2 separate regions of the Homo sapiens genome follow, and region 1 is linked to region 2. A link means that fine-mapping ties the variant in region 2 to the plasma level of a protein whose gene starts in the linked region. Region 2 holds a variant in brackets. A gene starts in the other region. All regions are shown on their forward strands.

The links. A credible set is the group of variants that fine-mapping cannot tell apart. PIP is the posterior inclusion probability: the model's chance that the variant is causal. The UK Biobank Pharma Proteomics Project read protein levels with antibody pairs (Olink). The fine-mapping took linkage between variants from a reference panel, not from the people measured, so its PIPs are less certain.
Region 1: MEGF10 starts here. The variant in region 2 is the best candidate, but not a certain one, in a credible set for the plasma level of the MEGF10 protein (UK Biobank, PIP 0.53).

The regions. Positions count from the first base shown.
Region 1 is chr5:127,282,581-127,298,306 of GRCh38, forward strand. It overlaps MEGF10 (multiple EGF like domains 10), which reads left to right and starts at 8,216. Exons shown (of 25, transcript NM_001256545.2): 1 at 8,216-8,476. LOC105379199 reads right to left here and starts at 8,156. Exons shown (of 4, transcript XR_007058921.1): 1 at 7,998-8,156.
Region 2 is chr12:3,275,831-3,291,556 of GRCh38, forward strand. It overlaps TSPAN9 (tetraspanin 9), which reads left to right. Exons shown (of 9, transcript NM_006675.5): 4 at 2,591-2,782; 5 at 3,162-3,236; 6 at 4,552-4,653; 7 at 5,368-5,499; 8 at 5,904-5,987; 9 at 7,215-10,729. The coding sequence ends at 7,286. Among named protein-coding and RNA genes, the nearest start is that of LINC02827, 17 kb to the right of the region's middle. RefSeq lists enhancers at 8,396-8,896, 8,897-9,397. The variant A/G (reference allele first, on the strand shown) is at 7,355.

The sequences.
Region 1 (15,726 bases), not on the chromosome of region 2:
TGCATTGGTGCAAAAGTAATTGCAGGCTTTGCCATTACTTCTAATTACTTTTAATGGCAAAACCTGGAATTATTTTTGTACCAATCTAATAGTTTCTTTTCCCAGTGGTATCCTCTTTTCTTTTTGGGACAACATCCCCTCTCCCCACTTTTCTGTGCTTCTGGAAGGATGGTGTATCAGGCACCTGTCTCACTATGGAAGTTTGAAGGGCCAAAGCCTTCCTGTTTTCTCAGAATAGTCAGGAGGAAGTGCAAAACCTAAGTTCAGTCAAATGAATGCTCTCTCCTGTGACTTTGATCTTGAGAGCATCATGTGAAGACTAAGGAAAGAAATGGTTCAAGTTCATCAATCTCAGCAGGGACAGCCTGACCAGATTGGTTCAGCTCTGAGACTATGGCTTTGATTTTTTTTTCCCCAGTCCTCTAAAGGGATTCTTGCTCATTTTTAACTTTGGGCCTCCCAGCTGCCCTCTCTTCTGGAATCCCTCAGTGTTGTTTTTATTAAGTTAGTTGGAGTTGGTTTGTGTTACTTGAAAACAAGAACCCTGACTGATACAGTATGCATTCATATTGCAGACAAAAGAAGATCATACTACAGGAAATGTTTTATTCCCCCTGATACTTACATCATTGCCATATTCACCTTCAGTCAACTTTTGCAACTTTCTTTTCACACACATTCATAAGTCCTCATTATGCAGAATATTTAGATTTATTTATTCCAAATTGTAATAGATGTATTCACTATATCAAATGTTGAAATTTTAAAAAAAGCAATTTCAGGAAGATATTCATGTCTTTACTTCTGTGATTCTCTGGTCTTGGTATATGGAAGATAAATCCTGTTTCTTGCTGAACTACTTCCAAGCATGATCCCACTCCACAGTAAGTCTATGTTTACAAGAATATCCTAGATAGGCATGCTGCCCCAATACACCAGCAATGCTTTTACAAACTGCCAGTCCAGACACATTTGGGAGTCCTAAAAGTAATTTAACATTTAAATAAAACAATACAGAATAGAACTTTGCTTCTCAAAGTGCAATCCAAGAAACAGAAGCATCCACGTAGGAGTTTGTTAAAATGCGGTCTCCACCCTGGATACTGAATCAGAACCTCATATTTAACAAAATCTCTAGCTGATGAATGAGCACATTAAAGTTCGAGAAGCATCATTAAGAAAACATGAGAGGGCATTACATATGGTAAGAGTAAGTGTTGTTTCATGAAACTTGTTCTAATTATATACTTACAAAGATAAGAATTTGTTCATAATGAAAAATGTACTTCTTACTGTGGATCATATTAAAACTTTTTTTGGGGGAAAACACTAAGCTAGGGGAAATAAACGGATGAATTTGGAATCCCATTGTTGCCCCTTTCAAAGTAAGAATACTAGGATTGCCTTAAATCTGTGAAGACATGTTACATGAAGAAGACAGAAAAGTACTCCTAACTCCTGATACAGGGTCCAAGGCTGCAAATACAATTTCCTCATCCATTGTTCTGCTCTTCCCTTTCTTCCTCCACTACCTTTAAAAGACAGTGATCTTTTCAAAAACCTGGACAAGAGTCATACTGGAGAAGGGAGCATAAAAAATATCTAGGACTGGAAGAAGAAGACCGAAATGAAGGCATCTGGGAGGAGACTCATGGGCCAAGAACCCCACCTTTCTAATCCTCTATGTCCCTTGGCTGAGACCTATGGCTAAAGACATGACCTCTTCCAATCTTGCCTGCATTTGTGTTGTGGGGAGAGATAAAGCTGTGTACACACAAGAGCTTTAAGGCTCCTGAACACTTTTTTTTCAGTGTAGATTTTCAGTGACTATGAGGAAAAAGTGTTTAAACATAGCATAATGGTGAGATTTGAGGAACCACAGTAAGCAATCAGAAGACCAGAATAAACAGATGTAGTTCTGAGGCAGGTGAAGTGGTAGAGAGAGCATAAGCTTTGAAGTCAGACCCAGGGTCAGTCCTCCCTCTGCCACTCACTAGATATGGGATCATGGGCAAGATAATTGATCTCTCTGAGCCTTCTTTTTCTTACCTGTAAAGCAGGAATAATTATACATGCCTCTTGTTGTTAGAATTGAATGAAGTAAAAAAAATGATAACCTTCTGCCATACTTATGAGTTTACACTCTGCTGTAACCCCCACTTCTATTTTTTTAAGTGGGAAGAAGGTAAACTCTGTGAACTCTAGTCTATTGCTGTAACTAAGCAAGCTTTTAAATCATAGATTTAGAAGCATAATTTGAGAGCACTACTGAAAGGAAATTATGGGTATAAGAAGCCAATCTTGTTTGCTAAGAGGTAGAACTGGTAGGGTGACTTAGTTTTCTTTATTCAAAATATTAGCAGACAGGTAAATGGAACAAATGAGAATATCTCTGGATTTATAAGGTAATTGAAAAAATATCTCATAAAATCCTTGTGGATCAGATGAAGAAAGCAGACTGGATGTAATAATAGAATTGTAGAATTTATCAGCAGTTGAATGACTGTACTACAGGATGTGAATAAATATAAATGGAGAGGAAAGTCTCCGTTAGAATATGCATTTTATTTCTATCTGCTTCTACATGTCTAATAATTATTTGTTCAAGAGCATCGTGGCTTTCTGATCAATTCCCAATATCATGATTTCAACCTGCCTAGCTAATATACTAGGAAAAGAGTTAGCTCCACCAAGCCCTTGACAGGTTCTAAAGATGGACTGCATATACAAAAATGGAATTTGATAGACCTAAATGAATAGTCTTATAATATTACTATGAAATTCTCAACTAAAAATACAAATAATATTTTAAGATGTCAAGATTAATAGCAAATATGAAAAATAATTGGAATTTTAGTAGATTATAAATTCTATGTTAACAGAGTGATATAGTTACCACCAACAAAAAAGTCTACTTAATCTAAGATTGCATTAGTTATGTTGTAGTGTTCAGAATAAAGATAGTAAAAATTAGTAAGGAAATAGAAGACTTGATGAACAGTGTCAACTAATGAGACCCAGTTGACATTTTTAGAACAATCTACCCAATAGCAGCAGCAGTTGTACATTGTTTTCAGGTGCACATGAACCATTCACCAAGAAAGACCATATTTTTGCCATAAAGCAAGTCTCAGCACATTTAAAAGCAGTGAAATAAGATGAACTATTCTTGCTGGCTGTAATAAAATTAAATTAAAATAAATAAAAATATATCTGAATCCCACTACTGGGTATTTAATCAAAGGAAGTGAAATCAATGTATCAGAAGGATACCTGTGCCCCATGCTTATTGCAGCACTATTCATAATAGCAAAGAGATGGAATCCATGTAAGCATGCATCAATTGATGAATGGATTAAAAAACGTGGTATATACACAAAGTGGAATACTATTCGGCCATAAAAAATTGGAATCGTGTTATTTGCAGCAACATGGATGGAACTGGAGGACATTAAGTGAAATAAGCCAAGTACAGAAAGAGGAATATCACATGTTTTCACTCATATGTGGGAGCTAAGAAAGTTGATCTTTTGAAGGTAGAAAGTGAAATAATGGATACCAAATGTTGGAAAGAGTGTGTGAGTGAGAGGGAGACCTGAAGAGAGGTTGGTTAATAAGTATAAATATTCAGTTAGATAGAAGTTGTAGGTTCTAATGGTCAGTAGCAGAGAAGGGTGACTATTGTTAGCAGCCATGTGTTGTAATTTCAAAGTAGCTAGAAGAGAGGACTAGAAATGTTCCTAACACATAGTAATGATAAATGCTCAAGGTGATGAATACCCGAGATGCTCCCCTTGTAACATACTCTATGCATGTAACAAATTTTCACATGAATTCTGCAAATATGTAAAACATTATGTATCAATAAAACAAATACCTAAAAAATTCCCTGAAATTTGGAAATTAAATTACAGTGTTCTATATAACCTATGGGTTAAAGAAAAAATATTTTGAACTATATAAACAGGTTATCAAAATTTGTGGAACATGGTTACAGTAATTATTAGAGAGGAGTTTATAATTTTAAATGCTTGTATAAGAAAAAAATCTAAAAATCAATAAGCAAAAATTTGACTTTAAGAAATTAAAGAAAAAAGAAGAGAAAAATAAATCTAATGTATATAGAAGGAAGGAAATAGTAAAGGTAAGAGCTAAAATCAACAAAGTAGAAAATGTGTAAGTAATAGAAAAAAATCAATGAAACTAAAGCCTGATCCTTTGAATTGATTTTTAAAAATTGATGAACTTCTAATCAAAGAGATAACAAGAAAATAAAAATGCAGACCAATAATTTTAATGAGTATAGACACAAATATCCTGAACAAATTTTAGCAAATCAAATCCAACAGTATATCAAATATATAATACATTACATGGACCAAGTAAGCTTTAACCCAAGAATGCAAGGCAAGTTTAATAAGCAGTTCAGTTAACTAACAGAAAAAAGGAGAAAAACCGTATAATAATTTCAACTGATACAGAAAAACATTTGACAAAATTAAATAGTCACTCATGGTAAAATAAACAATTTCTAGTGAACTATAAATAGAAGGAATTTCTCAATTAATAAAGGGAGTTTAATGAAACTTACAACTAACATCCTACTTAATGGTACAAGACAGATTGCTTTGGTTTATGATGAGCAACAAGGATGGGATACTAAATTTTAGCATTTGTATTCAATGTTGTACTGGGCATCCTATCCAGTGAAATAAGGCAAGACAAATAAATAAAAGAAGCAGAGCATGTAGAAAATCCTAAGCAAACTGAAAAAGAAAAACTACTAGAACGAATAAGTAAATTTAGCCATGTTGCAAAATGTGAGGGTACTGCACAAAATTCCACTGTATTTCTCCATACTAGCAATGAACAATTGGAAACAAGAACTCAAAAATAATTCCATTTATGAAATATTAAAAATAAAATACTTAGGGATTCATTTTTTAAATTGTGTGTAATACTGCCATGTTCAAAGCTACAAAATATTGCTGAGAAACATTAAAGAATACCTAAATTAATGGAGAGATAAATGTTCATAGGTTAGAGGAATCGATATTTTTATGTCAGTTCTCCTTAAATTGATCAATGGATTCAAGGCACTCTCAATTAGAAAAGTGAATTTTTAAAACATTGACAAGCAAATTCTGAAATTTACATGGAAGATGAAAACCAAATAAAAACAAAAACAAAAGCTGAAGAGTTGAACAAATTTTGAAAAAAAATAAAAGCACAGTTGGAAGACTTATTACATCTAAGTTGGAGTCCTATTATAAAGTTATAGCAATCTGAACAGTATGGTTTTGGCATAGGAATAGAAATATAGATCAAATGAAAGGAATAATGAGTGAATCCTGAAATAGACTCACTCATCTATGGCCAATTGATTTTCAATAAAGGTATCCAGTTACTCAATGGGAAAAAAGATAATCTTCTCAACAAATGGTGCCAAAACAACTGGATATCCATGTAGACAATAATGAACCTCAGCCCTTACTTCATACCATACACAAAGGTTAACATCAAATAGATTGTAGACCTAAATATAACAGCTAAAACTATAAACTTCTATAAGAAGCCATAGAAAATCTTCATGACCTTGGGGTAAGCAAAGATTACTTATGTAAAACCTAAAAGTACAACACACACACACAAAAACACGCTTGATAAACTGGACTTTATCAAAATTAAAAACTGCTGTTTGAAAGACACTATTAAGAAATTGAAAGACAAGAAACAGACTGGGAGTGTATATTGGTTATATACATATCTAACAAATGCCTGGTATATAAAGAACTCCTACAACTCAATAATAAGAATCCAAAGACTTGATTAAAAATTGGGCAATAAATTCAGACACTTTATCAAAGAACAGGTGGCATGAGAGCACATGAAAAGCTGGTAAACATCTTTTATGGTCACCATCATTAGTCAGTAAGGAAACGCAAATTAAAACCACGATGTGATACCACTATATACTTACTAGAATGGCAAAAATAAGAAGACAGAAACTACCCAGTGTTGATGAGGATGTGAAGCAATTATCATATCTTGCTGGTGAGAATGTAAAATGTTTTCCACTTTGGAAAGCAGTTCATCTTTCTATATAGTTAAACACACAGTTACTGTAATAATAATTTTACTCCTGTAAGATAAGAAAAATAATAATGTATGTCCACAAAAGGACTTGTTAAAGATTGTTCCTAGCAGCTTTATTCATAATAACCCCATATTGAAAACATCCCCAATGTCCATCATTTGGTAAACTGGCAAACAAATTGTGGTATATCCATACAATGGAATACTACTCAGCAATAAAAAGGAACAAACTTCAGATACAGGCACAACATTAATGAGTTTCAAAAACATTGTGTGGAGTGAAGGAAGTCAGACACAAAGGAATATGTAAGTGATTCCATTCATATGAAATGTTAGAAAAGACAAATCTAATCTGTAGTTACAGAAAACAGCTAAGCGGGCCAAATATGAGGTGGGATAGAAGTTGACTTTAAAGGGGTGCAAGACAACCCTCTGAGGTGATGGAATTGTTCATTATCTTGATTGAAGCAGTGGTTACATGGGTGTGTACATTATTCAAAACTCATGAAGCTGTATAATTAATATGAGTGTAATATATGGAATGTAACTTATCCCCCAATAAAGTTGATTAAAAAATTAAAAGGAAAGTGGGGCAACCAAGTTTCATAAAGCAAAATATCTTTGGGTAATAAGTGGCATGAACTAACAGCCAATTTCCTTAGAAAACAGCCATATGGATTAATCACCTCTAGAATTATTTGTGCCTGTGCTGCCCAGATCAAAGTTCCAACTCCTGGCAGAGAGGGCCTGAGGGGCTTAGCTGAGGTCAGTTGCTCTCTTCTGGACAGGGAAAAGCTGGACCATCCTGACTGACCTTCCACCCAGACTGCTGTCCTTGTGGCAGGGATGGTATCTCAAAGAAAAATGGAGGTACTGTTACCAGAGAAGGGGCAATGATGACTGCTAAACAAACAAATAAACAAACACCAAAACAGTCTTCCCCTGTGTATTTCCAGGGAGAGTAAAGAGGATGGTGAGGGGCTTCAAACATATCTATGTTCATTCATTCCATTCATTTATTCACTCAAACATAATATGGAGTCTGTACTATTTTCCAGGAGCGTTATTGAGTAGGGACTCGAACGCTCTTGAAGTCTCTCTAAAAAGAAAGAGTTCTTATTAATGGGAGGAAGAGAAGCCTGGTAGGAGATGGTTACCTGGAGTGGTTATGGGGCTTAAACCTGTTTTTGTTTTTTTGTGGGGAGAGGGGGATAGAATTCAACGACACAAGAAAGAACTTTGCAGCAGTCAAATTTGTATCTTTTGGGGTCCTGTAAAAGCTGGAAAACTCTTTAGTCTGGAAGAGGAAGATGGACAGTCAGAGAAGCAGATTCCAGAATTCATGTCCTGTCTAACCCACAAATGGAAAAGCCCGTTCATGGTTTTAACATTCCATCACTGGGCCTCCCGGGGCCTCCTCGGCGAGTCGGCAGAGGGAGCCATTCCCCAATAAATTGCCGCGCGAGGCCTCCGAGGACCTGGGGGGATTTTCCTGCGCGTCCGGGGAGTTCTCTCTCCGCCCCTCCATGGTAAAGCAGACTATCCCACCCTCCACCCTCTGCCTTCACCTCCCCGCCCCACCTTTCCATGTACTTTGCTGCCACATCACATTCTCTGGCACGGCTTAATCACCATCCTTTCTGGGTCCCACCTTTGCGCTTTCTCCCCTGACACCACTGAGGACCCGCCGTCCACTCCAGTTGGCCGCTCGGGCGCCGGCCACCGTCCCACAAATCCTTACAGAGGGTCTAGAACACCTCCCAGGGACTCTGCCGAGGGACTTGCACCCAACGTGGGTTGGGAATCAGGCGGGCACCCACTCTGACACCCCTTCGGTCACCCCCTGCGGTGACCCCAACATTTGCTAACTTCGCGACCAGGCCTTTGGCGGGGTCACCCACCAGGCGGTGGAAGCCGCTCAGGCAGGGGCGACTCACGATCGAGGTGCAGCAGTCAGGCCGGGAAGATCCTGCATGTTGCGCTAGGGACTGCGCGCGGCGCCAAGCGACAACCCCCCAGCGGCCACTGCCCCGGCAGCAGCAGCTGCAGCAGCGGCAACTGCTCGAATCCCGGCCCCGGCTCGGGTTACCCGCCCCCACCCCCTCCAGCATCTCGGGCCAGACAGAGAAAACCTTGTTCAAGTTTGCAGCAAGTACTTTCCCGGTGCGCAAAACTGGGCGACTGGGAACGCGTTGAGACGTTCCTCTTTCCCGCTTCTCCACCTTTACGCCTGAAAGAAGACTCCCAAAGATTGCTTTCTTCTGGGACGCTGCTTGGACGCTAACCGCGTTGATTGGAACAGATTTTGTGTCTTGGCTGGCTTTGGGTGAAGACCGGGGAGAAAAGGTTGCGCTGCGATTCTCAAGATCTCTGGACCTGGGTAAGAGTTGGGCAAACTCAACTCCGGCGGCTCCTGGACCTTGGCCGGACGCCGGAAGGCTTCTCATGGGCGGGGGTCACATTTTCCTTAGCCAGGGTACCGGGGTGCGGCGTGAGGTGGGGCGAGATGGGCTCAGTCTGCGTTGTTCATGCGCTTCTTAAGGGTTTATTGTTGTTTGCATTTGGTTTTGTTACATGGGATTGTGTAGGAAAATCCTGGAGTATTTTTGATGGAGAGACATCCTCATTACGCATTTTATTTTGCATAATTCCTGCCCTTGTATTGCCTTACCTTGTGTTTGTTTCATTTTGCCGGGCGATATAGCTGGATGTAGGGAGATTTGTGGGGAATCGGACTGAGCTTGAAAGGCAGTTTCAGCTGGGCCCTTTCTTCTAGGTCAGTTGAACTTCCTTTCTGGGATCTTCACTGTTTTCTAAACTTCTCTTTCTCCCGTCCTTGGTATTCAGATTGTGCAGATAACGCTCTAGGCTGGCGGGATGCTCCCCTTTCCTGAGTTCTCAGCGATCAGTAGGGGTGTGAGGTCGCAGTCTTAGACCAAAGGGGCCTTGTCAGTATGCTTGGCTCCTTAAGGAGTGCTGGGAGGGACGGTTTTTCAAGTGATAGTTACTTAAGAAAGATAAATCCGGTGTTGATCTTTTTCTTTTAAATTCCTTGTTAGAGGACTTTTACGCCTGGTTTAAGGAAGTGTTTTGGCCTTAATTTTCTTTCTGGAAGTATTTTTCTTAGTGACACCACTGAGCAAATGAATGATGGCAATATCTTTGCTGCTTCTTTAGAAAATATCCTCACGCAAGGACCCACATTATTTAGGAGAAAGTCAAAGTTGGAGATCTTATTAGCCAAAATTAGCCATTATTATTGTTCTTAGGCTGTGATAACCATGCTGTGCCAAGGCAGAAGAGAATGACATTTCTTCTTGTTCTTCTTGCCTTACTCCTTTATATCCTGGGTCTCACTTTGTGTATAGGGTTCCCAAATAAAAATGCTTCATTCCTTATGGACAGAAATACTGGGGCCAATTTATATTATCCAGAAATGTCATCTTCCTGACACGAGTGCTCCAAGAGGTCAGCTTGCAGGGAACTTTTAATTTTACCACTGAGAGTTCAAAGAGTTCAGTTGGTAAACTCTGGGCACCCGCCAGCCTGGGTTCAGCTCACAACTCTGCCACTTTTCAGTTCTGTGATTTTGGGGTAAGTTACTTAATCTGTTTATCCACATATGTAAAATCAAAATGATAATAATAGCACTTACATCAGACAATTGTTAAAGGGATTAAGTAAGTTAATGCATGTGAAGGACTAACAAGCCTGACACATAGTAGGCACAAATTAGCTTTATTATTATTGTATAGCTAGCATTAACTATTGTTGTATCCCTCTAGTATAGCTTCTATTAGCTGTCAGTAAGTGTTAGCTATTATTCCTATTTGGATGGACTTTGAAGACTGTGCTCATCTGTAAGCTTCACTACCACCTATTGTCAAACTTAGCTCAGACATGATCTTTGTATTGCTTTTTTGTTGTGGCACTTTCAGTTGGAAAAATAAAGGTGTATATGGCAGAGCTGGAATTTATAGGGTGGTGGGTCATGGATGGGCACCAAAGACTACTTGGAACAGGTGAGGAGGTGGGAAATCTACACTCAGTTCACAGCCTGTATACCTCCTTGGAAATCCTTTACATTAATATACTTTCTTTAACCTATTTTTTAGAGGTCACTCATTTGTTCAGTAAGTATTTATTAACCATCTATTACATGTCAAGCACTGTTTTAGGTTTTATATTTTAAAAATGGCTATGCATGAGTATTGGCTTTATGTGCCTCCTCCCATTTCAAGTGTGTGACCTAGCACTCTATAAATTAAATCCCAAGTATTTTTAGCTACACAATTTCCATACCTGTTAAAATGCTCATAAGAGCACATAAAAAGCACGTATCATTGAGAAATTGAACAAAATATTCCCTATGACCTCAAGCAGATTGCTTTTCTCCATTTAGGCATCAGTTTTATTATGTATAAACTTGTGTTGAGAGGTGGGGAAAGAGTAGAATAACCTCCAGTGTTCCTTCTGGCTCCAAAATCCTTAAATTAGCTGCCTTACTTCATTGGTGGCTGTTTTTGAACCCCCACTTTTCTCTTTTAACATTTGTTTTAGGTACATAAATTACGTTACTTCCATCTTTGCATATTCATCAAAGTGAGTAACAACATCGATAATTAATGAAAAGGGAAAAGCGTTTATCTCTGTCTGTCTTTCACTATTCTCAGACTTTGGTTTATACCAGAAGCATGAAGTGGGGAGATTTGTTAAAATATTAGAGTGAACTATGAGAAATTGCTGATATTTGACCATTTTTGACCTAAATAAATGGCAATTTTGTATGGTTCAAACTATACAAACCCTAATCCCTTCTGCCTTGATTTAGAAGTAGTAAGTCTTCTGTGAGTTGTGAGAAGTCTGCATTTTTACAAGTTCCCCAGGTGATTCTAATGCAAAACTCAAGTCACATGCTCATTTAGCAGCAGTGAATTTACCTTCTTTGTGATTGTCTGCTTGGTTTAATAGTGTATTTCTAAAATGCAAATCTGATCATGTTATTCCCTTGTTTAAAAATCTTTGGCAGCTCTCTGGATGGTGAATGTCAGTGTTACCTGGGTGCATGTTGAAAATATAGATTCCAGGGCTTCACCCCAGAAGTAAGGGCCAGTAATCTGCATTTTGAGATCTCCAGGTGAACCTGGTAAAGCTGACGTCAGATCACATTTGGAGAAACACTGGCTTACAGCATAAAGTCTCACCTCCTTACCGCTATACACAAGACCACCTTTGCAGCACTTCTCAGGGTTATTTTCTGCTTCTCTGGTCCCCAGCTCTCCAGCTCCCACTGATCTTGATCTTGTTACTATCTCAAGAATACGCTGTGCACTTTCACTCTTCCATGACCCAGCTGTATATGCTGTTCCTTCCTCTGAAAATGTCTTTGACCCTCTTTCCTGTCTAACCAACCACTTACCACCCATTCATCTTTTAAGACACTATTCAAATCCCTTTGAAGACTTTCCCTCTGAAGTTTTTCCCAATTATCTCATAAACTTAGCGATATCTCATGCGAGTTCCCATTCTTGTGGATAGATTTAATATAGCATAATCACATTGTATCAGCCATATTTATTATCTGAATGTTTATCCCTAACAGATTGGTGAGTTCATCATTCCTTATTGTAAGCTCTTATACAAGTGGCTGGCCCATAGTAGTTATGGAATAAATGCCTAGAGAATGTTGGAGAAAAGTAAATGGATGAATGATAGTCAACATTTTCTTAGCAGACAAAGTGGTTGGGACAGTATTGTATACATATGGAGGGTGTGGAAAAGCCAGTTGGGAATTTCCAGTTTGGCTAGACATAGCCTAGGAAGTTAATAACTTCAAGTGGGGCTGGGCATGGTGCCTCACGCCTGTAATCCCAGCACTTTGTGAGGCTGAGGTGGGAAGATCACTTGAGGCCAGGGATCCTAGACCAGCCTGGCCAAAATGGCGAAATCCTGTCTCTACTAAAAATACCAGAATTAGCCGTGAGTGGTAGCACACACCTGTAATCCCAACTACTTGGGAGGCTGAGGCACAAGAATCACTTGAACTTGGGAGGCAGAGGTTGCAGTGAGCTGAGATCGCGACACTGCACTCCAGCCTGGGTGACAGAGTGAGACTCTGTCTCAAATAATAATAATAATAATAATAATAATAATAATAATAAATAACTTGGAGTAGAAAAAGGACAAGACAGAATATCCTAAGAGGACTTATGAAACACCAAATGCCACTGAATTAATGTTACATGTTGAACATTATTGCAGGCAGTATAATGAAGAGCTGAGCTTATCCTTTAGGATGGTTTTGGTTTGGTTTTTGGAATGACGTGTCAGAGCACTGGAAAGGAAGTGCCAATGCCAATAAAAACCAACTTTGCTCTGTGCTTTTCCATTTATAAAACACTTCTGCTTCTGTTTTTGTATTTGATCAGAAACATGGTGACTGGTTCAATACTGTCTTTCCTTCTTTCCTGAAAGGACACATTCCTGAAAATAGGTCTGAAGATTGTATAAAAGCCTACATATTATAGGGGATTCTGGCCATAGAAAGCCAAATATATTATGAAATCTCTAATTATATCTTGCTATTTAGACACAGCATTCAGTGTATACTCCATTTTCTAATTTTTCTTTCTTTAAACTTTACACAATTTTGGTTATTTTCTCCTCATTTCAATAACAGTTGACCAGCTCAAGTTCAATAAATGTCTGATTCAGATGAAAAGATTTGCCATTTTTGGCATGTCTAATAACTTCTACCTTTGTCTTACTTAGTTTATGAGACAAACACTTCTCATAATTACTATTAGGCTTTTAATTTTCCCATTTCCCATTCACTTTTTTGTAATAATGAAAATATGCAGTAACATTTGAATAAGTGAATGAATAATTCTCTGGGTAATGACAAGGATGGTGATTCTGCAAAAATTGAACTATTGGCTTAGGGCAGCTGCACCATAAAATAAACAACATAAAAAGTTCATTCATTAGCTGGCATCTGAGTGTCATCATGACACAGGGCAGGGAGGTAGTAGCATCAATAGATGTAGTACAAATATCCACATTGATGGACTTCAAACGAAGCAATATTGAGGACTGCCTTTACTCTCAGTTTCTCAAGGGTGTGTACCCAGTATCTGGTTTTAATAATTAGTTTAGTTTTAAGAATTAATACAAGATTCACTGGGTTCTGTTGATTTGTCTTCTTTTAAAATTATGTTTCTGAAATGAACTTTTTCTAGCTTAGCATAAGCCTGTATCATTTTCTGCCAACCTTTGGAAGTCTTTTAACTGCTCTCCTAATCTCTTTATTCAGTCATTCATTCATTCTTCATATCTGAATGTCCTGAAATTTTTAATTTACCTTTTGTCTCTCTTTACCATTTTGCATTATTGTTCACCATGATCATTCTAACTCTTTTTAAATATAGTTATTGCAGAGGACTAATTTAGAGCATTTAGTAAAAGGATTTCTCATACTATGAGGGAAAAAGAAGGTACAAACCAATGTTATTTTACTTTATAGAACTTTATTTGTGGAATGGCAAGTCACTGTGTGGATGTTATTTGATAATGCAAACTCTGTGGCATTAGCCAATCTGGAAAGTGTGAATGTGATAATACATCCTGTTATTATGGTTGTTCATTTCTAGTGATTTCCTCTCTTATTTCATTTCTAGTGATTTATACTCCTAGATAAAGAAACTATGTAAAGCATTTAAGCACCTCAATTTCCTACTTAGAGGGCAATAAATTGTACCCCTTCCCACTTCTAAGACAAAGAAAACAGTATTTCAGTATGGAAAACCTCATCTTGATAGGTACATGTGCAGGATATTAGCATCTGTTAAAAACATCTTATCTTTGGGAACATCCTAGAGGATGACTAAGTGCCTTGTCATTAATGTCTCATCTGACCCAGATGAGCTGTACAGATTTGGCTGTTTCTCAACATAGCCACAGGTGGTGGTTCCCAAGATGGATCTTTTGAATACCTTCTGCTGAAGAATTTTGGCTTTCTTAAAAAATAATTTTTGATGGCAAATTGAAAACTAAAACACACAAATTTAACTTGTTCCTCACAGAGTGAAATAGAACTATGAAATTTTTGCTTGGTGGCACAGAAGACTAATCCTACAATCAAAACAAAAAAATTTAAATATCCACCCCTATTGACATCTTGAGAAAAGTACTTGAGTTTGGATGAAGAATTGATAAAAAATATGTGACTTGGTTCTTTAAAAAAGTAATAGGTTGGAGAGTTACTTTTTGTTCCACCAGTTTTTTTTGTTTTGTTTTGTTTTGTTTTTTGAAGTGGAGTTTCATTCTTGTTGCCCAGGCTGGAGTGCAATGGCGCAATCTCAACTCACTGCAACCTCCGCCTCTGGGGTTCAAGTGATCCTCCTGCCTCAGCATCCCGAGTAGCTGGGATTACAGGCATGTGTCAACATATCTGACTAATTTTTGTATTTTTAGTAGAGACGAGGTTTTGCCATATTGGCCAGGCTGGTCTCGAACTCCTGACCTCAAGTGATCTGCCTGCCTCAGCCTCTCAAAGTACTGGAATTACAGGCATGAGCCACTGCACCTGGCTGTTTATCAGATATTTATTAGCTGTGTAGGGCATAGGGGAAAATACCATGTGTAATTACCAAGAAGCTCTTGCCTTCGAGGAAAAAACAGACTAAAAAAGTACACATTGCATGCCCATATAAAATATCTCATGTAACCCATAAATATATACATCTACTATGTACCCTCAACAATTAAAAAAAAAACAACAACTGAGCAGGTAAGCCTGGGTATAGTAAGAGCCAAGTGGCAGTTTTGAGAGCTGCCACAAGAGCTCACTGGAGGCTTCCTGGCAGTGTGGGACCTTGAAGGAGAGATTTGAATGGATGGGGCATCTTAGGTGGGGGAATGGGCTCAGCAAACATGTGGTGGCAGGAATTTACAAAGCATCTTCAAGCAATAGTGATTAAACCATTCCATAGTAGTGGTGAGTTTACATTTGAGAATAATTTTATAATAGGCACTTACAGGACCTGCCCATCCCCATAGTACTATCTGCGTTAAAGGAACCCTTCACATTACACTGCAGTTATTTTATAGAAACTAGATGGGATTAGGGGGACCTATTGAGATTCAAGTAAAAATTGGCTAGAAATCTTCCTCCCTATTCCATGAGAAGGTGTAAAATGAGAAAACTGTTCTTCCTTTCAACCACTATGGGATTCTTGGGGCTAGAGACGGAGACAGGGCTCATGTTTCTTCTAGTGTCACCTGGATCTGAATTCATATTTTCCCTTAAGAAGTTTAAAATGATCCGAAGCCACTCACCCAGCCACGAATAACCTTCACTTCATAAAATGCCACCAAATGTGTGGCTTGAGTGTTTAGAATTTTAAGGTTTGGGACTATGGAAAGAGTTCATATCTTAACACTTAGAACTAAATGTTAAACATCCTTGCTTTCTAACAGTTCATCCTACCATTGCCACTTTCTCACCGCCCATCTTTTTCTGAAGGCTACCACCTCCACCAGGTGGCTTCAGCGCTGTCCTGCTGTCCCTGCACTCCTCCTCTCTTGCTCACTGATGACCCACACCCACATTCCTATTATCATCTGAAGCCC
Region 2 (15,726 bases):
CCCCCTGCAGCTCCTTGCACTGTCTCTTGGTTAGTAATACGTGGCGGTGTCTGTTCCTACCTTTTTCTTCATGCACACCTTTCTGGTTCCCCATTTATCAAAATCCTATTCATTCTTCAAAGCCCAGCAAGGCCTGTCAATGCCACCTTCAAAACATCTCAAATTGGACCATTTCTCACCGCTCCTCCGTAGCCTCCTGGTATGAGTCGTCCCCAGCTCTCAAGCTGGTCTGGCTCCTGGGAAGAAAGAGAGGCTCGCAATTAGGCAGGGTAGGGATGCCCACGGGAAGGTGAGGGGAGGGGACAGACGCCTCCCTGAGGAAGGGCATCTCCTTCTTATTCCTCCACAAACCCAAGCCTAATCACAGCAGCCTCCCAGTTGCTCTCCTGGCCTCCCTCGGGCCCTCCCGCGGTCGCTTCTCCAAACAGCAGCCAGAGTGATCTGCTGAAAACCTCAGTGAGATCATGTCACTCTCCAGCTCTGGGACCTTCCCGTCACACTGAGGACACTTGCACGTTTCCTTTACCTGCGAGGTCCCAGCTGGCCTGGCCCCCGGCCACCCCGCCTGCTTTGTCTCCTACCATGTGTCACCTCACTCACTGTTGTAGCACACGGCCAGCGTGCTCCTCCTTGGCTGGCCAGGCTCCTTCCCACTCCGGGGCTTTTGCACCTGCTGTTCTCTCTGTCTGGAACGTTCTTCCCCCAGATAGTTATGTTGCTCCCTCCCCCTGTTTATTTGGGTTTTTGCTTAAACACCACCTCTTCCAAGACACCTTCGCTGCCCACACCCTCCCCAGTTATTTTCTGGCTCTTTACATTGCCTTATTTTTCTTCGTGGCGCATGTCAGCAACTGCAGTTACGTCATTTGTTGCTTACATAAGGTCAGTGTCTCCTGTAAGAATCTACTCTTCGTGAAGGCAGGGTCTTTGCCAGTGAGGTGTACCACTGTCTCCCCAGCTTGGAGAACAGGGCCTGGCACTGAATACGCAGGTGTTCACTTGGGTTTGTGGAGGAATAAGCGAAGGAGATGCCCTTCCTCAGGGAGGCGTCTGTCCCCTCCCCTCACCTTCCCATGGGCATCCCTACCCTGCCTAATTGCGGGTTGCCCTGTCTCAGCCCTGAGCCTCTGTTTCTTCCCAGGAACCAGAGCAGCTTGAGAGCAGGGGCTGGGCTGATTCCTGGAGTCAGCATAGTCTGCACAGGCCCTGGCACAGAACAGCTGCCCGGGAAGTGCCTTTCCAGCAAGCAGTGCCCGGAGCTGGCCACCCACTTCACGTAGCTTATTCCAATCTAATTCTCACAGCAGTCCAATAGGAAGGGGATGATATTCTCACTCTGCATACGAGAGGTTTGCAAGCTCACACCACCAGGATAAGCTGGAGCCGGGAGTCCTGTTTGGGTCTGTGACTCCCAAGCCCTTACCACCTGCACTTTCACCCGGCATAGAATGTTCTCGTCCTCCATCTGCCCCTAGTCCACCCACCCTTTAGGGACTGCCTCCTTCAACTGGCTTCCATGACTGCGACAGTGATTGCCTCCTCTGAGCGCCCGTAGCGTTGACTGGGCACCAGTCCATCCCACCTGGGAGTGGTAGATTTTGCACTTTGATTGCTCCCATCCAGCCAGAACAGAGGCCCCTGGAAAACAGGTCTTTAAAGTGGTTGTAGCTTTTCTGGCATGGCACACTGCATGCTGTAGGCACTCAGTAAATACTGTTTCACTGATTGATTGGCTCCTCAGACTCAGCACACTTCCCATGAGCTGGCGGAGGGAGTCGGGGAGTGCCAGCTATATCGAGCATAAAATAAGACAGATGTGGAGATTTGCAGCCGGTGAAATGGAAGCTTCCCCAGGTGGAGCTGGTGGCGCCGGCAGCCCCAGGGGTGCTGTTGGGGAGAGTTGCTTTTCGGTTTGGGGGCCGATCATGCCAGAGGCCAGCTTATTGGATGGGTGGTGAAGGCAGCCGTGGACTCCCACGTCCCGCACACTGGCCAGGCCCCCAGCCAGCCGATGACTGCCTCCTTTCTCCATCTGTGGGAAATTGTTCTTCAGACTCCAGTGGACAAATGGCCCTTCGGGTCAGAGTAACAGGACACAGTCGCTGGAAGTTCTGGCTCCAAGAAACCCGACTCCGAGGGTCCCTTCCCACCTCCAGAGATGAAGTCTTTCTTGCTTTTCCTGACCCCAGTTCTCCCCTCTCACCAGGCCTCCGTCTTGGACACTGGGGCCTCTTCTCTATCATGCAGAGTAACCTAACCACTCACATGTGTCCAGTACCTTCCACGTATTTGTTACGCACTTTTGCCTCTGTGTGGTTTAATCCATCCTCAGAATGACCTGGGAGGCTCTTGAAACTGGCACAGTCTCCGTTGTCACATGGGGAGACTGAGGCACAGAGAGGCTAGGGGACTGTCTGGGTCACACAGCCGACATGCTTCGGGTCTGCAGCCCAACGGTAGTCCCGTTCTCACCTTGTCGGTTCTCACTTTGTCTGTGTCTCAGAGCATGGGGTGGGGACCTGCACTGTTCCCAGGTCCATGGACGAATGTGAGAGCAGCGCCAGGCTAATGGGCTTTCCTTCCTTTCCAGCTCTGTGGCTGTGGGCTGCTGGGAGTGGGCATCTGGCTCTCCGTGTCCCAAGGCAACTTTGCCACCTTCTCCCCCAGCTTCCCTTCGTTGTCTGCAGCCAACCTGGTCATTGCCATAGGCACCATTGTCATGGTGACGGGCTTCCTCGGCTGCCTGGGGGCCATCAAGGAAAACAAGTGCCTCCTCCTCAGCGTAAGTTCTGTCCAAATCCCCAGCCCCTCCAACTCCTGATCTCCTTGCACTTGGACCCCTGGGACAGGCAAGACCTGGAATATTAGCCACCTGGGTGTCCAACCTGAGCCCAGGGAAACTGCTTCTAGAACGTTCTAGGCTTGACCACACCCCTCCTCCTCATGGTTGGTTATGCCTACCCCTGGTTGTCCCTCCCACTCCCTGATTAGTCAGCTCCTTTATGTCTCTGTCCTAGCTATCTGGGTTTCCTCAGGAGGAGCTGGCTTCTCCCAGACCTGGGAAGCCCCACCTAGGCGCCGCCTGTCCCTGCCTTCCACACCCTCCTTGTCCTCAGCCCTGCCCATTACCACCTACCCATGCCTGGCCCTTTCCTTTCCAGTTTTTCATCGTCCTGTTGGTCATCCTCCTAGCAGAGCTGATCTTACTCATCCTCTTCTTTGTCTACATGGACAAGGTAAGCCTTACCAGATGGGAGGGGGCATATGGAATGTCACTGCCCTTAGAGTTGGGCCAAGCAGGCCAGGGTCCCTTCCCTGGCCAGAGGAAGAGTGCTGGCAAGCAGCACCTGTGCAGAAAGGAACATGGAACCAAGGGTTGGGAAAGCTACCAAGGAAAGAGCAGATGGAAGGTTTTGATGGGGGCAGCATGGGGCAGGCAAATTTGGAGGATGGGAGAGTTGACTTTGTATAGTTCCAGGAAGTGGAATCCTCTGCATGACCAGAGATGGCAGTGGGCTGCCTCTGGCGCTAGTGAGCTCCCTCTCACTGGAAGGAATTAAGCTACTTGGAGAAGGGATTCAGACCTCATCAGGTGGTTGGGCTGGGTGATTTGAGAGCAAACCATGAAAAACAAGGAGGAACTCTCTGGGCGACGCTGGCTGAGCAGGACTGAGGCACAGGGAAGCTCTGTTTCCTGCACTAGAGCCCTTGAGGACGGGCGCTGCTCCTGGGTTCAGGAGGATGGTGGGTGACCCCCTGTAACCTCGCCAGGCTGGGCAGTTCGCAGTCAAGAGCGAGGTTGGCCGGGATTTCAGTCTCTTGGGGCGTGGCAGGCCCTTTGGTACCATGCACTCCAGAACTGTGTAAGGAGCAGTTCTTGAAATAGCTGCCTGAGCCACACTGAAAGTTAGAGACATCGTTAGGATGAGAAAGAATAATCTTTTAGTTTTGCACTCGTGAAAAGGAAGAAAGAACAATGTTGAGAGATTTCTCTGTGCCAGCCCTGTTCTTGGCCCTTTTATGAGAATTGTTTCCCTTAATTCTAACAACAGCGCCATGAGTAGATGCTGCTGTTCAACATCGGGTAGAACAGCGGTGAGGGAGGTGAAGGTCACATGACCTGTCTTCCTCCCTCTAGTTCCCAGGGTGTGTTTTGAGAGGGGCAGTCTGTGGGGAAGCTGTGTAGTGGGGGGCGGGGGTGGCAGAGTGGCCTGTGTGTGTGGCTGGTCCTGGGATGGGGGAGTGGAGGCACGTGGTGTGTTTTTTTGCCTCTGGGTGTTACAGCCCTGGCCCTGAGTTTAGCTCTGCCGGGAGGCGGTGGGTGCACCAGGGCCTGCTGTATTCTGAAACTGGGAGTGTGTGCCTAACCCCGCACCTCTGTTGGGCCAGCAGAGGCCCCCACCCCAGTGGGCAGGGCCTTCCAGACCAGCTGCCTTCCCTGCCTTCCTCACTCCTCATCTGTCACCCACCATCCTGGGTGACCTGAGGTGGGCTGGAGAGACGAGCTGCGTCCTGGTTCCAACCGTCTCACTGTGTCCCTCCGCCTGGCAGGTGAACGAGAACGCCAAGAAGGACCTGAAGGAAGGCCTGCTGCTGTACCACACCGAGAACAACGTGGGGCTGAAGAACGCCTGGAACATCATCCAGGCTGAGGTGCGGGCTGGGCCGCCCTGGTGGGGCCAGGCAGGGAGGAGGGGTGGCGGCCGGTACTTCTAGCTGCCTTCCCCGGTGACCTGGCCGGGCACCTGTGCTTTCTGGATTTTAGCCGGGAGTGGAGTGGTACCCACGGGGGCATTTGCCTGAACTGCTGAGTCAGATGTGATACAGCAAGGTACAGCCAGGGAGGGATGAGGATACAGGAGGGGCAGGCCTGAGAGAGCTGTGGCTGAGCTTTGGGATGAATGACTGAATTTATTTTAGCAACAGATTTGCCTCCATGATGGGGCTTGGCTTAGGTGAGGAGGCCCTGGCTCTAGGAGGAGAACAAGTCCATAGTCCCAGATGCTCCCATTTTAAGCCCTGGGGAGGGGCCGGCAGGGGGTTGGGTGGCAGTCAGCTTGGGACGGTTTACAGAAAGAGCAGAGGTGCTGGTGGGCAAGCACAGGGCTGAGCCAAGGGGCCCAGCCCGAGGGGTGGGCTGCATTGCCCTCTCCCGCTCTGGTCTCCAGGAAGGAGTGCTCACTCACTTCTCCAGTGGGCCCGGCTGAAGCCCAAAGAAGGGACAAGAAGCAAGCCCTTTGTCTCCTCCCTTAACTGCAGGGTGGCCACTTTTGCGGGGACTGGGGTTGGCCTGGGCAGGGGAAGGCCCTGGGGAGGAAGGGGCGGGCCATGGCATGTCTGACTGCCCCTTCCATTCCTGCTGGCCAGATGCGATGCTGTGGTGTCACTGACTACACAGACTGGTACCCAGTGCTGGGGGAGAACACGGTTCCCGACCGCTGCTGCATGGAGAACTCCCAGGGCTGCGGGCGCAACGCCACCACGCCTTTGTGGAGAACGGTGAGGCTGGGGATGGACCGCTTGGGTCCAAGAGCCCGTGTGTGGATGCCCCGGCACGGGGAGCCCTATAGGGGAGGCTGGGCCCGGGACACTAAGAGGTTGGCTGAATGTGGCGGTGGGGGGCTCACAAAAATAAAGCCAAAAGACAGGTGGAAAATGGGGGGTGGGGCTGGACCCACAGTTGGGAGAGTCAGAGGGCGAGGGGTTGAATGGGGTCTGAGGCTCTGCAGCTGGCCTTGCGGGTGGGGCGGAGGCTGCGCCAAGGGATGGGGACAGGGCTGAGGCCAGGGAGGGCTGGGAGGTAAGAGCGAGGACGAGGTGGAAGGAGAGAGTGAGCTGGGGGCTGGGCTGCAGGGAGCGCATGCTTGGGCTGGGACCCTAACCTCGTGGGCCTCGCTCCCCAGGGCTGCTATGAAAAGGTGAAGATGTGGTTCGATGACAATAAGCACGTGCTGGGCACGGTGGGGATGTGCATCCTCATCATGCAGGTAAGAGGGGCGTCCCCAGCAGCCTCACCCACCCTGCTGGCCTCAGCCTCAGAGGGAAGGAAGCACAGAGAAGTGAAAGCAGTGTTGGTACACGGCGGAGGGTCTGGAATTCATCACAGCTATTCAAGCTTAGCAGCTGTGCCTGCCACCGTTTCCGCAGAGCTCTGATATGAGAGCACGTGTCTACTCAGCACTGAGAGTGGTGCTCAGGGCTGCCTGTGGCCAGGCCCAGGCTGGGATATTGAAGCTGGAGTCAACCCCCGTGGGTTCCCCCAGTTCTGCCCAAACCTTGAGCTCAGAGAGCCATGCAAGACACACACGGTGTCCCCCGGTCACCATCTTTACAGCCTGTGCACATGGCACACTCTCTGTGGTGACCGTGAGACCACACCGGGCTTCCTTCTGCCTCCTGCACTCCTCTGGGTCCCCGGCTCCTTTGAGGATTCAGGAGGGAAGGGGCACAAACGAGTAGTGACGTGGTCCTGAGCACACATCACTGGAAAGACAGCCCTGCTGCTGCCAAGACATCGCACCATGTGTTCCACAAGCAGACAAGAGAGGCTTGACAGGAGTCCTTTATTTTTCTTTTTTTAAGAGACAGGGTCTCACTTTGTTGCTCAGGCTGGAGTGCGGTGGCGCCGTCATAGCTCGCTGCAGCCACAAACTCCTGGGCTCAAGCCATCGTCCCACTTCAGCCTCTCAAGTAGCTGGGACTACAGGCATATACACCACCATACCTGAATGATTTACAACTTTTTTCCAAAAACAGATGGAGTCTCCCTCTATTGCCCAGGCCGATCTCAAGCCATCCTCCCACCTTGGCCTCCTAAAGTGCCACCGTGCCCGGCTGGCCTGAGTCCTGAATGATCCCTGCCACCTCCCACTCCCCACCTTGGCTCCTGTGAGCCCCCACGTAGAGCCAGGTCCTCCGTGCATTCCGTGCCTGCAGCGCCCCTCTGAGTAGGCACACGTATGCATCCTGCAGAGGTTCGATGGCTTCTGGTCTAACAGCCCCACGAGGCTGAGCCAGAGTTCACCTGTGTGTGTCTCCAGGGTGACCTCTGTTCACGGTTTTCTTCATGTCTTCATTCCATAAGCATTTTCCTGGCACACCAGTGGCCATCCCCGCTTGCTCTAGGTGCCCTGTGACATCCCAAGCCTCTCGGGGCTGAGGTCAGGTCCAGGCTGCTGCAGCTCCTGCCTCAGGCCCCTCCCCGTGTCTTTCAGATCCTGGGCATGGCCTTCTCCATGACCCTCTTCCAGCACATCCACCGGACTGGTAAGAAGTACGACGCATGAGCGGGCTGGCCGGGAGTGCCCACCCCGCCCTGCTGCCCTGTGGAGGGAAGAGGATTGAGCTTTGTGTC[A/G]CCTGCCTGCGCTCTCCAGATATGACCCCTGCACCCACCCCCCACAGCCTGCCCTACCCCACCTACCCTGCCTCAGCCTCGGACTTCTCAGTGGGTGGAGTGCCAGGGAGGAGGAGGCACACGGAGACCTGGGGCTCGGGGCCCCTGGATTCCTGCATCTGCATATGCGTATTTGCCAAAGACGACAGGGTGGGCTGGGGTGCGCTCCGGAGGAACCCCCGGCACTGATGGGCTTCTGCCCCTGCCCTTCCTCACACTGACACTTTGTCCCCACATGGGGTGGGGAGCAGAGTGCCCGCCCCGTGGAGATACCGCCCCAGCGGGGGCTGCGACATCCATGGCCACCATGGGGCACCTGGCGGGGCGGGGGTCTGCCGGCCTCTGGGCAAGGCCCCTGGAGCATCTCGCCCAGGCTTTTTATACCTTACAATGTAACTTTTTTATTTTATTTTACTCTATGATTATTCAGGAATATTATCTCTCAGATAAGTTTAGGGTTAGATTTCTGATTTGTAACTTTTTACTGTGTTGATTTCTTTAATGGTTTGACTTTTTTTCCCTGAGGGTGAGGGATGGGTGGGAAGAGAGGACATCTGTCCAGTCTCAATCAGGACAGACCACCGTGCGACACCCAGGAGGCTCTCGGATGGGGCGCGCCTGCGCCCTCAGAACGTGTGGGAAGGAGGGGGCGTGGACAGGACACGGGACCTTGCCAGGCCTGGTGTCTGAGGACAGGAGCCTGGGAGAGGCGGGTGGAGCGTGAAGCAGGCTGGAGGTGCCCCTGCACGGGAGGTGGCGTTTGCTAACCAATCGAGCTGGAAATGCCAGGGCAGGGGGGCCCCACGGTGCTGTGGCAGAGCTAGAGGGGTCCTTAGACTTTTCACTGATGAGCAGTTGTTGGTTTTTTCTTTCTCCCTTCCTCCCGCTCTCTGCTGGCACGCGAGGCTTCCCCTTCCACCCCATGTGGGTATTCCCACAACAGGTTCTGCACACCCCAGTTATTTCACAGACATTCCTGCTAGAAACTGTCAGACAAATACCTCTCTAGTTCGGATGCTGCTCACTTTCCCCCTTGCTTCTGGAAGGGGAAGCAGTCCTTAGGTTTTGCTGTGCTGGGACAGTGGCAGGGGACCCACAGGGGTGAGGACCCACGGTCCTCCCCGCCAGCCTTGCTCAGCTGTGGGTTGCCCTGCTGGGAAGGAGGGAATCACGTCCACCTGGGTCCCAAGATCTTCGCCTCCTTCCCTGGGGCCACGGACATCAGCAGTGGGTTGGGTGGCGATTATATCATCTGTGATCCCAAGGAGAAGAAATACAGAAAACCCAAGAGAGGTCAGACTGGCTCTTGTTACCGGAGCCACGGGAAGAAAGCAGCCGGAGTCACGCACGTGCAGAGCTGGGCATGGGAGAGAAACGGGCTGGGGAGTGAGGCCAGGAGTGGGATTCAGCTGCAGCAGGGCGCCCCCTCCAAACTGCAGCTGGTCTGGCTTACTGTTTTGCCGTTCAAAAAGGTCGCGAATCCGTGGGACTGAGCACGGGGACCTCACCCGCTAGCCAGCGTCTGCTGCACTTGATCAGGTGGGGCCTTGGTGGGCGGCTGCCTTTCCTATACAGTTTGTCTTGTCACCCTGGTTTCCCACTGGGGCCAGGTCTCTTCTCCAGCCTCCACCTGCCTGTCTGATCCAAGAGCTGAGACACGGCCACCCAGCACCAGTCACTCCTCTGTTCACCTTAAGTAACACACAAATCGGGAACAGGAGGACAGAACCGTTGGCATTATCAGGATTCGTGTTTTGTGGGGGTGGGAGTGGAGAGTAGGGTGGTCTTGTGAGTTGTGCAGGGTGAAGACCGCTTCCCTGAGACAGGGGCAGTGGTGCTGATGGAATGTGGGGGAGGCCCACATTTGAGCAAAGCTGCCCTGCCCTTGTCCCCTGGCCTGGCTTCCTGGTAAGGAGTTTCAGCCGCCTCCGCAGGAACCCCCAAAGTGCAGATTCCGGAGCAGACACATCCGGGCGGAGAGACTCAGCAGACAAGTGCTGCAGTTGCACGGTGGGACCCGGGGCCTCGTGCGTTTTTTGCTGTGGGTGGGGTGGGTGGGTTGGTTTATGCCTATCAATGCAATTTTTAATTTTTGTTAATATCAACAGCAAAAGCCTAGTGCATTGGGAGATGTGCAACCTCCCTGAAAATCTTTTCTGTTTCTGGAGTACTTCAGGGGTGGCCTCTGGCCCCAGAGCCTTTGCCACAGTGCTCCCACCAGCCCCCACCTCATCCGTCTGTTTGCAGAGCCTCATCTACAGGTCCCCACGCTGCCTTCTTTACTCACTCTGCGCTTGGCCGTTTTGTTATTTGGCTTAGTCTACATTGGGCGGAAGTCTGTGTGCACAGAGTGGGTGTTCCTTCGAGCCCCTTCCACTCAGAGGGCCACACCCAGCGATGCCAGTGAAGGTGGCACAGCCTCTCTTCAGTTTCTCCTGACTGTGATCTCACTGGGGTAGAATTCCCCTGAGAGAATTCCCTCACTCACGGCTCCCTTTGCCAGAGTCAGTTCAATCAGGTCTGATGTGAGCAATTTACACACTTGTCTCAGAAAGTCCCTCAGGGTTTGTAGAGGACTGCAGGGGGGCATCCGCTGCAGACTCAGCCTTTCTCTGCAGCCATCCTGCAGTGGGGGTGAGCGGGCACAGGCTGAGAACTGCTCTTGGGTGGTGGAAGCAGGTGTCACGGTGCAAGTCTCCCCCTGCACCCCTCCCCCAGCTTGAGCCGTGTCACCCCCCTCTCCCTCCAGCATGGGCCTGTGTCTCAGGCTCTCTGGAAGGTGGCCCTGCCCCGGACCCTCTTGCAGGTGTCCTGGTTTGACTTGGAACTAGATGGCCATCTTTCCAGGCTTTGGTGGCCCAAGAGCAGTCTGGGTGGATGGAAGTGGCTGTCCCCTCCTCTCCAGCCCCTGCCCACCCACTGGTGGAGGTGCTAACTAGCAGGGACGTGGCATAGGATGGGAGCTGGGCGTGAGGTGCTTGGGGTCCATTCTTTGTCCCTCAGCTTCTCAGAGTCCGGCCAGCCCTTGTGTTCCCGTGCCCCACACTTTCCTCCTCCCCACTGCAGTGAGTCAATAGTCCAGGGTGGGGCCTGGCCTCCCTGCCCTGATTGGGGACTCAGGAGGTGAGGCCTGGGGGGCTTCCTGCCCCCTCCTTGCCCACCTGCCTGCCCCCGGGCAGCACGGGAGGGAGAGCAGGGTGAGCACGCTTGTTGGTTTCAGATGCACTTTCTGCTTGCATTGCCGTATCTGTGCGTTCCTTCATCCTGGTCCTGGCTTTATGGAACACCATGTTTTTAGCATGTTTTTAAATAAAAACGGATAAAGTGTCAAAAGCACAGCAGGCTGTCTCTCAGTGGTGTGTTTTGTTCACTCAGCCAAAACTGTGACTTAGGTCGTGGTTGGTGTGAGGGACCCAGAGGGATCAGATACCACTCCTACCCTTCATCCAAGACACACCCCCAGGGGGACCTCATCTCTCTTTTGGGGCCCAGGTCACAGATCTGCTGGCGTGGGGAGGGTCTCTGTCCTCTCTGGGTGCCTGAGGAATCCTAACATCCCCCCTCGAAACAGGCTGGATCAGGGGGCAGTCCCAGTGCCCGAGGCCTTCTGCCTGAGAGGCTGAAGTCCTGTCTCCGTACCAATCACCCATCACACATGGCCAGTCCTGTGGCCAGGCCCCGAAGTGTATCGTGGGGCGGGTATGGAATAAGCCACTAGCAGCTTCCAGTAGGGTAAGGGGCTTCCTGTAGGGGTGGGGGCTGTCAGTTTCAGAAACAGTCTTCTTCCCAATCCCTGTGATGTTCCCGGGGTTCATTTGACCTTGATGTCTCGGACTGAGGGGGCCTCACAGTGTGTCTTGGCCTTTTCAGGGTGACTGGGACAGCCTCAAAGAAGGAACAAAATCAGGATGAGGATGGTCAGCAGGGAAGGCCATTAAAACCGCGAGCAGGAAGAGCTGCTGGCTGGGCCACTGACGTTGCCGCCTTCCTGCAGTCGAAGTCTCCCGCGGCCTTGGTTGGGGTCCTGGTGTGTGGGGTTTCCTTGGCTGTCAGTCAAGGTGACAAGTTGCAGATGAGAAGCTCAGAACTCCCCTTGCTGGTCCTCACTGTGTTCATGTCCCCAGGGTGGAGGCAGGCGTGAGGGTGAGTGTGCATGGGGGTCTGAGAGCAGTTGGAGGTTTGGAGGTGAGCATCTTGAAACCCCTCTGCCTGTGGAACTCCATCTCCCGCCTTCTCAAGGGAGTGGCCAGGTCCACACAGAATTATCCCAAAACATCAACCTCTGGGGCCCCCTCCTGCAGCTGCTGTGTCCCAGAGCCTCCAGAGACGGTGCCTTGAGTCTGAGCCACCCTCTGTCTAAGGTCCAGCTGGAGTGATGTCCCTGGGAACCTCCCCAGGATATTTACCGAGAGAGACTTTGTGGCTGTAGGGTCAGGATTGATCGTGGCTGAGGAGCAGGTGACCCCCTCATCGTCTGCGGAGGACAAACCAGCTCATAGGAATTTGGGTGGATGCCACCCTGTCTCTGCTCATTCTTACTCTCGCTCCTGCCCCCAGGCCTGTTGAGATGCCCACTGGGTCACTGTGCTGTGTTTTGGGGCTTCCAGGCAATGGAACACACTGGCTGTTCTCTTAACCCTCGGCTCTGGTTGCCCTGGCTGTGCGGGAGAGGAGCATCTTCTTTGGGACTTCTAGTGACGAGGCTAGCACCTCTGGGCTGGGTCTGGGCTCCTCTGTCTAGGGAGTGGCTGAGATGACCCGGGGGGGGGGGTCCCTCCTTTGCGCCCCCATTCTTGTGTGTTGTGATGGAACTGCCTCCCCATTGGTGCTCAGCAAAGGGCAAGTGAGAAAGGGTGGCTTCTGAGCCCCGCCAGCTTTCCATGGGGCCAACAGTGGCGCTTGCACAGACAAATGTCTGTTTGCCCAAAGACTTACTGAATACTCACTCGTGCCAGGCACCTAGAACACAGTCGTGGACGACACAGACCCAGTCCCTGCACTTTCAGAGCCGACCATTTAGTGGGGACCCCAGAAGAGTGCCTGTGATTGCAAGTAAGTAGTGGCAGCAATGTTCACAGGGCACTGGGAAGCCCTGGGGGACAGTCACTGGCTGAACCTGGGGAAGTGAGGTCTCCAGAGCAGGTGATGTCAAAGCTAAGAGCTGAAGGTGGAGGTGTTCACCTGGCAAAGAGAGGCAGGAGATGTGTCCTGTGGATGCTTGTGGTCCACAGAGCTGGAGCACAAAGGGTGAAGGTGAAGGTCTGGAGATGGTGGTGACCACCAGATCACAACCTTGAGAACCAGGCCAAGGAACTTGAAGTTCAGGCTGAGAACAGTGGGAGCTGTGGAAAGGCTTTAAGCCCAGGTGTGACAGGCTCAGATGTAGCCTTTAGAAAGCTGGCTGTGGCTGCAGTGTGGAGAGTTTTCAGGGACAGGGGAGGCCACCGGGGGACCAGGCACAGGTGCCGCAGTGATTTAGGTGACAGACGATGGAGCCTTAGGGAAGGGCAGTGGGATGGAGATGAAGCCGGAAGATTTGAGAGATGCACAGGAGAATCTGCGAGCCTTGGTGGTTAATTAGATTTATGCAAAGAGAAGGAGCGTTCTTGCCACTCGCCCAACATGACACCCTCAACCCAGACAGGCAGATGACTAATTGTTTGCATCAAATGGATGGATGAATGTGTTTTCTGGGCTCGGTGCTTCTGTGCAGGAGATGACAGAGATCAGCATGGTGCAATTAAATCTCTTTGTTTGTGTTGAGCTGCACAGCTTGCAAAATGCTTCCATAAATGTGATCTAGGCTCCTCCTGACCAAAACGGTCTTATCAGCTGTCACTGTGCTTAAACTTTCACCATCAGAGATGCACCAAGGTGTGCATGGGAGGAGCACTGATGTGGGTGCCAGAGGACCCGGGTTAAACTCCCAGTTTGCATTTGGTGTCCCTGTGAGCCTCGGAACTTGTCTTGGTTTTGTTATTTGCAAATGAGGATAATGCCTATTTTATAGATTTGTTGTGGGGATTAAATAGAGACATGTATGTAGAGGCATCCGGCTTGTTCCTGGAGCAGGATAGGTGCTTGGCAAGAAATTGGTTGAACCTGGGTCGCCACATGAAAGGCAGGACCCCAAGGAAGAGCAGCTTTCAGCCCAAGGACACAGGAGAGCGGTCTGGGAAGGGGTGCTGGTGTATGAAGGGAGAGTGAGCTGCCCGCAGGGGCTCAGGGAACAGGTTTCCCCATGCCTTTGTTTTGCCCTGGGCTGGCTCAGCAGCAACACTCAATATTCCACAGAAGCAAGAAGGAAGCCAGATTAAATAAATGTCATTTTGGACACAAAAATATTGACATTGCGATGGTCCCTTCTTAAAGCCGTCAGCAAAGCTTGGTAGGCTATTGATTTAGCCATCTCATTTTTGCTGAGTTTAATGACAGGAGCGAGATAGACTATTGTCTCCTAAAGCTAACAAAAAGAGTAACAGCACTCCACAGGGCACGCTGGAGCCAAGCCCTCCTGATTGAAGCTGACGCCCTGGAACCTCTCCTTTGCAGCCCAGAGACTACCAGGTAGCTGAGAGCCAGCTGGGGCAGAGCTGGGCACTGCCTCGTTTTCCTTGGCCCTATGTGCAGAGGAGAGAGGTGAACGGGGACATGAAGGCCGCACAGTGGCCTGTGGCCGGGTCTTGCGGTTAGCACCTGTTGCCCGGAGATTTTTCTTCTGGTTACTGAGTTCTGGAACAGCCTACAGCAGTGTCCAGAGCAAGGCCAGGCTAGCTTTGGTGGTCGAGGGGAACTGCAGCCCACATGCTCTGATTTAATGACCTCAGGAAGCTCATTGTCCTTTGCCTCCCTACTCCCACCTCAACTCCTCCACTCAATTTCTGGAATCAGAATACAGTTGGTCCCTAATTTATAATGGTTCAGTTTATGATTTTTTGACTTTATGATGGTGTGAAAGTCATAGGTATTCAGTAAAAACGCTTATCTCTTTCTTTCGAGTACACATACAACCATTCTGTTTTTCATTTTCAGTGCAGCAGTCCATAAACGACATGAGATACTCAACACTTCGCTGTAAGGTGGGCTTTGTGTTAGATGATTTTGCCCACTGTGCGCTAATTCAAGTGTTCTGAGCACATTTAAGTTTGTCTAGGTTAAGCTGTGATGTTGTAGGTTAGGGTTTTTTTTTTTCCTGAGACGGAGTCTCGTTCTGTCACCCAGGCTGGAGTGCAGTGGCGTGATCTGGGTTCCCTGCAAGCTCCGCCTCCCGGGTTCACGCCATTCTTCTGCCTCAGCCTCCCGAGTAGCTGGGACTATAGGCACCCGCCACCACGCCCAGCTAATTTTTTGTATTTTTAGTAAAGAAGAGGTTTCACCGTGTTGGCCAGGATGGTCTCGATCTCCTGATCTCGTGATCTACCCGCCTCGACCCCCCAAAGTGCTGGGATTACAGAAGTGAGCCACCGCGCCCGGCCATTAGGGGTATTAAATGCATTTTTGACCTATGGTATTTTCAACTTATGATGAGTTTATTGGGATGTGACGCCTTCGTAAGTCAGGGAGTGTCTACATGTTCTCAATATATTTCTTTTCTCTGGCAAGGGACCCTAGTTCCTGAAAGGACTCAGCCTTCTTATTTACCAGATGGCCCCTCCAAGAGAGTGTGTTGGGTTTGACCTCTGGCCTCCAACTCAGGGTTCTCTAAAGGAGGATTAGAGATTCCTGAGCTATTCTCAATATTTTAAAAGTCCCAGCGAAGTTGTTCCTCACCCCCATCATGGGAACATAAACCCTTTGGGTCTGGATGGCTGTGTTATGCCCTTAGTGCAGTGGCATGGTTCGTACCTTGCTAATGGAAAGGGCTGGGTTCCCGCCTCACTCTTTCCCTCCTCTCCCCTGGTCTGGTGCAAAGCCTCCCACCGGATGCTCCGCAGGTCCTCTCCTTCCTGCTCAGGTCACTGCCAGATAGGGCTTGACCAGTGGCAGAAGCAGGAGGAAAAAGAAGTAGGAGCTTCTTGTGTGTTTGCTTTTTTTTTTTTTTGATACAGTTTCACTTTGTTGCCCAGGCTGGAGTCCAGTGGCGCAATCTTGACTCACTGCAACCTCGGCCTCCTGGGTTCAAGCGATTCTCGTGCCTTAGACTCCTGAGTAGCTGGGATTACAGGCACCCGGCATCATGCTAGGCTAATTTTTGGTATTTTTAGTAGAGATGGGGTTTCACCATGTTGGCCAGGCTGGTCTCGAACTCCTGACCTCAAGTGATCTGCCCGCCTCGGCCTCCCAAAGTGCTGGGATTACAGGCATGAGCCACCACACCCGGCCTCATGTGTTTG